Linked DNA regions of Homo sapiens: region 2 is linked to region 1. The links come from fine-mapping of genetic effects on gene expression. A gene starts in region 1. The other region holds a variant in brackets. All regions are shown on one strand. Distances are from middle to middle. Region 1 holds the start of ZNF394 (zinc finger protein 394). Region 2 has its middle 29 kb from the start of MYH16.

What was found. PIP is the estimated chance that this variant, and not a neighbour inherited with it, causes the effect.
Region 2: its variant is the best candidate, but not a certain one, in a credible set for the expression of ZNF394 in whole blood (TOPMed, PIP 0.86).

The regions. Positions count from the first base shown.
Region 1 is chr7:99,497,895-99,502,286 of GRCh38, reverse strand. It overlaps ZNF394 (zinc finger protein 394), which reads left to right and starts at 2,006. Exons shown (of 3, transcript NM_032164.4): 1 at 2,006-2,649; 2 at 3,445-3,571. The coding sequence starts at 2,194. RefSeq lists enhancers at 2,396-2,675, 2,898-3,566.
Region 2 is chr7:99,241,249-99,245,640 of GRCh38, reverse strand. It overlaps a transcript of MYH16 not described here. Among named protein-coding and RNA genes, the nearest start is that of MYH16, 29 kb to the left of the region's middle. The variant T/G (reference allele first, on the strand shown) is at 2,341.

The sequences.
Region 1 (4,392 bases):
CCGACCTCAGGTGATCCCCTCGCCTCGGCCTCCCAAAGTGCTGGGATTACAGGCGTGAGCCACCGCACCTGGCTCCATAAGAGATATTTTTATGTCTAGTTATTAAACACACCTGGATTGATAAATAGTGTTCGGTTTGTTTGGGCGTGGGGTGGGGAGGGGGATTGCTTGAACCCAGGAGGCAGAGGTTGCAGTGAGCCGAGGTCAGGAAATCAAGACCATCCTGGCTAACATGGTGAAACCCCGTCTCTACTAAAAATACAAAAAATTAGCTGGGTGTGGTGGCACGCGCCTGTAATCCCAGCTACTTGGGAGGCTGAGATAGGAGAATCGCTTGAACCCGAGCGATACTCCCTCTCAAAAAAAAATTTTTTTATTTTTATATGGAGACACATCCTCTCTATGTTGCTCAGGCTGGCCTGGAACTCCTGGTCTCAAGCGATCGTCTCATTTTATGCAAGTTGCAAATCACCAGCAGCTTGACATCAACCAAGACACTTTGTTTTAGAGACAGAGTCTTGCTCTGTCACCCAGGCTGGAGTGCACTGGTGCGATCATATCTCACTGCAGTCTTTACCTCCTGGGCTCAAAGGATCCTCCCACCTCAGCCTCCCAAGTAAGTGGTGTATCCTGAGTTGGTTCCTTCCAGTGGGTTCATCCTCTCGCTGACTTCAAGAATGCAGCCTCCGACCTTCACTGTGTTACAGCTCTTAAAGATGGCACGGACCCAAAGAGTGAGTAGCAGCAAGATTTATTGTGAAGAGCGAAAGAACAAACCTTCCACAGCATGGCAGAGCACTCCAGCCGGTTGCCTCCGCTGACTGGGGTGGGAGCTTTTAGTCTCTTATTTGTCCCCTCCCATGTCCGTTTCTGTCGTATCAGAACGCCCTTTTTTCCATCCTCCCTGCGATTGGCTGCTTTTAGAATCCTGCTGATTGGTCCATTTTACAGAGCGCTGATTGGTGCATTTTACAAACCTCTTGCTAGCTACAGAGCGCTGATTGGTGCATTTTTACAAACCTCTTGTAAGACAGAAAAGTTGTCCAAGTCCCCACTGGACCCAGGAAGTCCAACTAGCTTCACCTCTCACTGGGACTACAGGTGTGCACCACCACACCCAGCTAATTTTTTATTTTTTGTAGACATTGGGGTCTCCAATTCTTGGCTTCAAGCGATCTTCCCCCCTCAGCCTCCCAAAATGCTGGGATTACAGGCATACGCCACTGAGCCAGGCCAGGACACATCTTTGAGCCTCAATTTCCTCATCTTTTTTGTTTGTTTGTTAGGATCAAAGTCGTTAACATCTGATGTACATGGAAGCACTTAGTTTTAAAAAAAAAACAAAACTTTTTCCAACTGGGCGCAGCGGCTCACGCCTGTAATCCAGCACTTTGGGAGGCCGGGGCAGGCGGATCACGAGGTCAGGAGTTCCAGACCAGCCTGACCAACATGGTGAAACCCCATCTCTACTAAAATACAGAAAGTAGCCGGGCATGGTGGCGCGCGCCTGTAGTCCAAGCTACTCAGGAGGCTAAGACAGCCTGGCGACAGAGCGAGAGTCCGCCTGAAAAAAGAAAAAAAAACAACTTTGTCCAACCTGGGCAATATAATGAAACCCCATCCCCACAGAAAAATTAATAAACCGGGCGTGGTCGCGCGCACCTGTAGTCCTAGATACTTGGGAGGCTGAAGCTGGAGAATTGCTTGAACCCGGGAGACAGAAGTTGCAGTGAGCCGAAATCGCGCCACTGCAGTCCAGCCTGGGCGACAGAGCCAGACCCTGTCTATTTAATCCTGAAGGTTCCCGCCCTTGCCGGAGCTCGGCCACCGGCTCGGACGCCCGTATTTCCTCGGGATGCGGGAAACCGTCAAGACCCTCTGCGTCGGGCGGGGCTAGGACGATAAACCAGCGAGATGCACCTCACCCCATCAGGCGCCTAGAGAGGCCCCGGAAATGCAGGGAAAGGTGCCGCAAGGCCTCGATGACGCGCTTCCGGCACGGGATGTTTTCGGTTGTTTGACCGAGAGAGTTGTAGGCGCAAAGCTGAGGAAAGGAGAGTGTGGAGAGGGGCCTGGTGTGGTGGGGCCCGGTGTTTGGGACCGGAGGGTGTTGACGGCTGATGAGTTCCTTGGGTTTGCTCTTTCTTCACCTGAAAAGAAGACTCCAGGAAGGGCAGCACATGCCGGAGAAAGATGAATTCCAGCTTGACCGCCCAGAGGCGCGGCAGTGACGCCGAGTTGGGACCCTGGGTGATGGCTGCGAGGTCCAAGGACGCGGCGCCGTCCCAACGCGACGGACTTTTGCCCGTGAAAGTGGAGGAAGACTCACCCGGAAGTTGGGAGCCCAACTATCCCGCGGCTTCGCCGGACCCCGAAACTTCTCGACTGCACTTTAGGCAGCTGCGTTACCAGGAGGTGGCTGGACCGGAAGAGGCGCTGAGCCGGCTCCGAGAACTCTGTCGTCGGTGGCTGAGACCCGAGCTGCTCTCCAAGGAGCAGATCCTGGAGCTGCTGGTGCTGGAGCAGTTCCTCACCATCCTGCCCGAGGAGCTTCAAGCCTGGGTGCGAGAGCACTGCCCAGAGAGCGGGGAGGAGGCGGTGGCCGTGGTGCGGGCTCTGCAGCGAGCGCTCGATGGAACCTCATCCCAGGTGAGAAGCGAAAGGCCTGTTCTGGAGGTGGGAGTGTGGAAAATAGGCGTTTAGGGGTGCTCTGCGTTTCGGAACTTACTTCCTTATTACATTTCGTGTGAACATTGGGGTGTGTATGGACTTCCTTTCTGTAGGCCACAGTGACAGATCCATCCAGGAAATGACTTGTTATAGACCTCAGCATAAAGCGAACACGGATTACTGGTTTTCTTTCTTTTTCTTTTCTTTTTTTTTTTTTTCTTGTTGTTCTTGCTGTTGTTTGAGATGGAGTTTCACTCTTGTTGCCCAGGCTGGAGTGCAATGGCGCGATCTCGGCTCGCTGCAACCTCTGACTCCCGGGTTCAAGCGATTCTCCTGCCTCAGTCTCCCGAGTAGCTGGGATTACAGGCGCCCGCCACCACGCCCGGCTAATTTTTGTATTTTTAGTAGAGACGGGGTTTCACTGTGTTGGCCAGGCTGGTCTCGAACTCCTGACCTCAGGTGATCCGCCCGCCTCGGCCTCCCAAAATGCTGGGATTACAGGCGTGAGCCACCGCGCCCGGCCTTGTTTACTTTTAATCTGTATCATATTTCCATTCCCATACATCACAGTGATATAAGTTAAAGAAATATTTTGCTCCTACCTACCTCCAAAATTAGTGTAAATAGTCCACAGAAAGGCTTTTCAGGATTACAAGAGAATGTCAGCCTCTATCTCTGATCTCTCCAAACTCCCTTGTCGGTACAAGACTCAAGAAGAGTGTTAGTGCTGTACAGGGACAGCAGGTACTGAATGGGGCTCTTGTGTTGTTCCAGGGGATGGTGACTTTCGAGGACACGGCTGTGTCTCTAACCTGGGAGGAGTGGGAGCGCCTGGACCCAGCACGGAGGGACTTCTGCAGAGAGAGTGCGCAGAAGGATTCCGGGAGCACAGTTCCGCCGAGTGAGTGCTGTTGCTCTGCTGGTTTATTGCGGTGTGTGGTTTGTGAAGGGCTGGTTCACTACCATCCCTGAGCCACTATGCCATTCCCAGACTTGGGCTGAGAGCCTTCAGGTGCCTTCTGTAACGCAAGCAGGAGCCTCTGTACTGCTAGGTGCTAGATTCAGCTTTTTACTTTGGTTCATTTTTAATGTTTTATACATACAGAAAACTATATAAAAAAAAGATAATGACCATCCCCTGTGTCTACCACCCAAGTTTATCAGATCTTAATACTTGGCCATATTGCCAAGGAAATAGTATGTTACAGCTGTAGGTGAGGCCCCCACATAGCCTCCCTGAAACCCTTCCCCTCTATCCTTCTCCAGAGGTAGCCAGTAAGCTGACTGTTGTGTTCATGACTTCCATGCATGTCTTATATTGTCTCTACATAGACACGTAGCTCCACGCTGTATATCATTACTGTATGGCTTTTTTTACTCAACATTACATTTTTGAGATTTACTCATGTTGATGCATGGAGCTCTACCTATTTCACGGTCCAGATACTCCAGAATTCTCTCCATTTCTGTTGATGGACATTTAGGTGTCTTAAGTTTTTAACCATTACAGCATTGCACCGAACATTCTTGTATATTCTTGCATATCTTTGTATATTTGTTTCTATGTTGGAGTTTTTGAAGAGAATATGCCTAGAGACAGGCAGTAGTCCCCCCTTCCTGGTTTTGCTTTCTGCGGTTTCACTTACCCACAGTACAATCAGATATTTTAAGACAGGGAGAGACCACATTCACATGACTTTTATTAAGTATAGCATTTGTTTT
Region 2 (4,392 bases), 260 kb after region 1:
CAGGAGAATCCCTTGAACCCGGGAAGCGGAGGTTGCAATGAGGTGAGACTGTGCCACTGCACTCCAGCCTGGGCAACAGAGCGAGACTCCATCTCAAACAAACAAACAAAAAACCCCAGAAAAACCAATTACATCATTAAATAAATTAAGAGCAGGAAGAATGAGTGAAGACAGGAAATGGCCAAATCTATGAATCTTAAATTTCTCTTCTCCTTGCTGGACAGTCACATTGACCTCTAAAGCATCCACCAAGTACTTGGTTTCAGTTCAACTTTAAACCCTTCCATTTTGAACCAAGTAAGAATAACTGCTCCCTATCCACCCCTGTCCCTGCCACCAGCTCCTCCTTAGCATAACTGGGATATGTTGAATTTTCAAAAGGAAACTTATTAAGTACAAACTGATCCACAGGAAAAAAGGCAAAGAGACGATGAAGGAAACCCAGTGGAACAGCTGAGAGTATGACACACAGTGTCTCATCCTGGGACACCAGCCATGGAGTCACTCTTCCCCTCCAGCCTGTCTCAGCCGTGGGGTGGGGGCAGACAGCATCCTGGAAGCCAGTTACCTCCCTGCTGTGGTCAGGAGGAATTGAGAGAGAAGCAGCTGGGATCATGGGAGCAGCCCTTGCCAGCTAGAGTTGTTGCATTAGTGGCTCTATTGAGGCGCTTTAATGTAGGAGGGGACTCCCTGCCCTGGTCTCTCAGGCTATACTCCACAAAGCCTGCAGTCCCTTGGCCCAAAGTCATGATGTGGTCACCCAGGAGGAACAAGGGCTTGCGGGCAGAGCAGCCCCAGGTAAGCCCTGGTCCTGAGCTTGACCTTTGAGCCTGTACCTTGACATTCTCAGCCCAGGCTCTAGGTTCAGCCGGGGGTGGGTGTGGCTCTTTCTAGACCTGGGGTTCAAGGATGCCCTGCTAACTTCCAGACCTAGCAAATATCTTCAAGAGATTTCAGAGACCTTCCAGCAACACCTGGGGCTATGGTACTACTGGGGCCTGAATCTAGAACCACAGTAGTAGTATTAAAGGAGGATGAATCTGGGGTCACAGAAGCCCTCTTGACTATAACCATAGACCCAGGGAAGGGGAACCCCCAGCAGCTCCTGACCTGGGAGTCAGGCTGCACCTCACCTATTCCTACCAGATAAGCCTCTTTCCTTTTAAATAAAGACATCTAGAGAGGCAAACACCAACACGTCCTTAGACAACCCATTTTGGGAGTTAAGCTGCAACACCTTCAGGAAATCATCTTTCTGTCTTAAGATTTCAAAGACACTCAGGGGACTGATTGTAACTCACTCTGGTCATCATGTCAGACAAAGTGAAACTGAATTTCTTCAAGGATGCAGTTGGTTGTCCTTCCTAAGTGCCTCAGGCTACAAGTCACATTTCCTCAATGTTTGTTGGATGGATGGGTGGATGAGTGTTTTGATTAATGAATGAATGGATGGATATTTGGATGTTTGGATGGGTGGATGAGTGGATGGATGGATGGATGTTTGGTTGATGGATGGATGGATGTTTGGATAGGTGGACGAATGTTTGGATGTTTGGACTGATGGATAGATGTTTGGACGTATATATGTATGGATCGATGTTTGGATAGGTGGATGAATAGATTGACGGATAGATGTTTGGATGGATGGATGGATGGATGGATGAATGTTTGGATGTTTGGGTTGATGGATAGATGTTTGGATGGATGGATAGATACTTGGATGGATGGATGGATGTTTGGATGGATAAATGTTTGGATGGATGAATGTTTGGATGGATGGATGTTTGGATGGATGGATGGATGAACGAATGGATAGATGGATGAATGGATGGATGGATGGATGGATGAATGAATGGATAGATGGATGAATGGATAGATGGATGGATGGACTTCTAATAATGGCACATGAAGTCACTAGGGGAAAAATGATGTTTTGATTTGAGAGTTTGAGGAAGAGGGGAGGAACATGAGGAGGAAGATTTTCGGGTGACAGCCTCAGCAAAAGCTGCTCACGGAGATGGTGCCATTACTGAGATGCCGAAGGCTTTGGGTGGAAATTCTAACATGTCAGAAACGTGGTCCCTGTGCCTTTGTCTAAGTCATAATGTGTACTGGGAGCTGGGGAGGGTGGAGTAGCCAACCCCCTCCTCAACAAAAGAAAAGCAGAAGATCTACAGCCACTCCTTCCTCCCCCCACTCACCCCATCCCTGGCACTCACATAGATCCTCATGTTGGTGTAGCGTTGGCGCAGATTGTCTAGGACACTGGCCTCATTCAGGAAGGTCATGTCTGCCATGTCACTGGCCTGGTAGAATTTGGGTGGGTTCATCTGCTGGATA[T/G]CATCCTTCTTCACAGTGAGTGTCTGGGGGGGTCAAGACACAGCAGCACAGGCATCAGGCATGGGGCATGGGGCATCTGGCCCAGGTCACCACATACCCTCTGGAGTCCCAGGAGATGGAGTGGAGCATCCAGTGGACCCAAGTCCTGGTCCAGCCACATCCCCCTGTGTGTCCTGGGATGGGGAGGCACTTCTGAGGCCAATGCAGCTTCAACTGCCTCCTCTCTGAAGTTGAGATGACAGTAGCCTCCTTGGCAGGTTGCTGGGAGAATTATATGAACTTAAGTGGAATCATGTAAAAATACCTTAAAAACTATGACGTTCCCTCCCTATGTTACAGAGACCTCTGGGCTCTGCTTCTCTTCCAGCCAAATCCATCCTGATAGATGATCAGAGCTTATTCTTTGATCCCATGGACACTTTGCAGAGATGTGACTCTTGGCTCTCTGCCTTGAGAGTTAGCGGTGATTTCGAAATAGCGATGAGCTTTTCCATTTCTCTCTCTCTTTTTTAAAGACTAAGTGCAGTAATGAGAAGGGTGGGGGGAAGAGTGGAACAAGGATTTTGATCTGTAACTGACCATGCACAATCAATTGAGATAACTCACTACCTTCAGACCAGCCAAACTTTTCCTTTTTAAATTTTTAATTTAATTTTATTTTTTGAGACATAATCTTGCTCTGTTGCCCAGGCTGGAGTTCAGTGGTACAGTCATAGCTCACTGCAGCTTCAATCTCTTGGGCTCAAGCCATCCTCCTGCCTCAGCCTCCCGAGTAGCTGGGACTACAGGTGCACACCACCATGCCTGGCTAATTTTTAATTTTTTTTTCTAGAGACAAGGTCTTGCTATGTTGCCTATGCTGGTCTTGAACTCTTGGCCTTCAATGATCCTCCCATCTTGGCCCCCAAAAGTGTTACAGGTGTGAGCCACCACATGTAGCCACTGTTCCACTTGAAAAAAAGACATTCCCCTGCTCCCTCCAAGCCACCTTCAAGGATAAAATTGAAAGCAAGCAAGAAAAGAAGAAAAAAAAGAAACCAGCAATGAGCATTCATCAGTAGGTGTGTTCGCGCCCGTGCCATGTGGGCAGATCTCTTCCCCATGCTGCACCCCAATTTCTTCATCTATAAATGAAAACTAGGCCGGGTGCAGTGGCTCATGCCTGTAATCCCAGAACTTTGGGAGGCCGAGGTGGGTGGATCACCTGAGGTCAGGAGTTCGAGACCAGCCTGGCCAAAATGGCGAAACCCTGTCTCTACTAAAAATACAAAAATTAGCTGGGCGTGGTAGCGCACACTTGTAACCCCAGCTACTTGGGAGGCTGAGGCAGGAGAATCACTTGAACCCAGGGGGCGGGGGTTGCAGTGAGCGGAGATCATGCCGCTGCACTCCAGCCTGGGTGATAGTGCAAGACAAAACAAAACTAAACAAAAAAAAAAAACTAGTGCCAGCTCTTAAGAAGCTCCAGCATCTGGGATCAAAGCTGAAGACATACGATCTAGAAAACAAATACCTTTTGGCTGCCTGCAACCTTAGATGTGAGGCCTGAATCCATACTGGGATTTCTGGGACTTTTAATAACTTATTAGTACAATAGGCAGATAATTTGAAATCTTGACAGTTCTGGAAAATCCACCCCCACTCCCCGTAATGGTTACCACGCCCTTAGTAAACCAAGCTGTTTTTTGTTTGTTTGTTTTTGTTTTGTTGTTTTTTCTGAGACAGAGTCTCACTCTGTCACTCATGCTGGAGTGCAGTGGCGTGATCTCAACTCACTGCAACCTCCGCCTCCTGGGTTCAGGCAATTCTCCTGCCTCAGCCTCCCAAGTAACTGGGATTACAGGCGCAGGCCACCATGCCCGACTAAGTTTTATATTTTTGGTAGAGATGGGGTTTCACCATGTTGGCCAGGCTGGTCTCAAACTCCTGACCTCAGGTGATCCACCCTCCTTGGCCTCCCAAAGTGGTGGGATTACAGGCGTGACCCACCATGCCTGGCCTCAAGCTGGGTTTTATTCTGAATTCATTTCCAGGGGTTTCCAGATCTCTGGT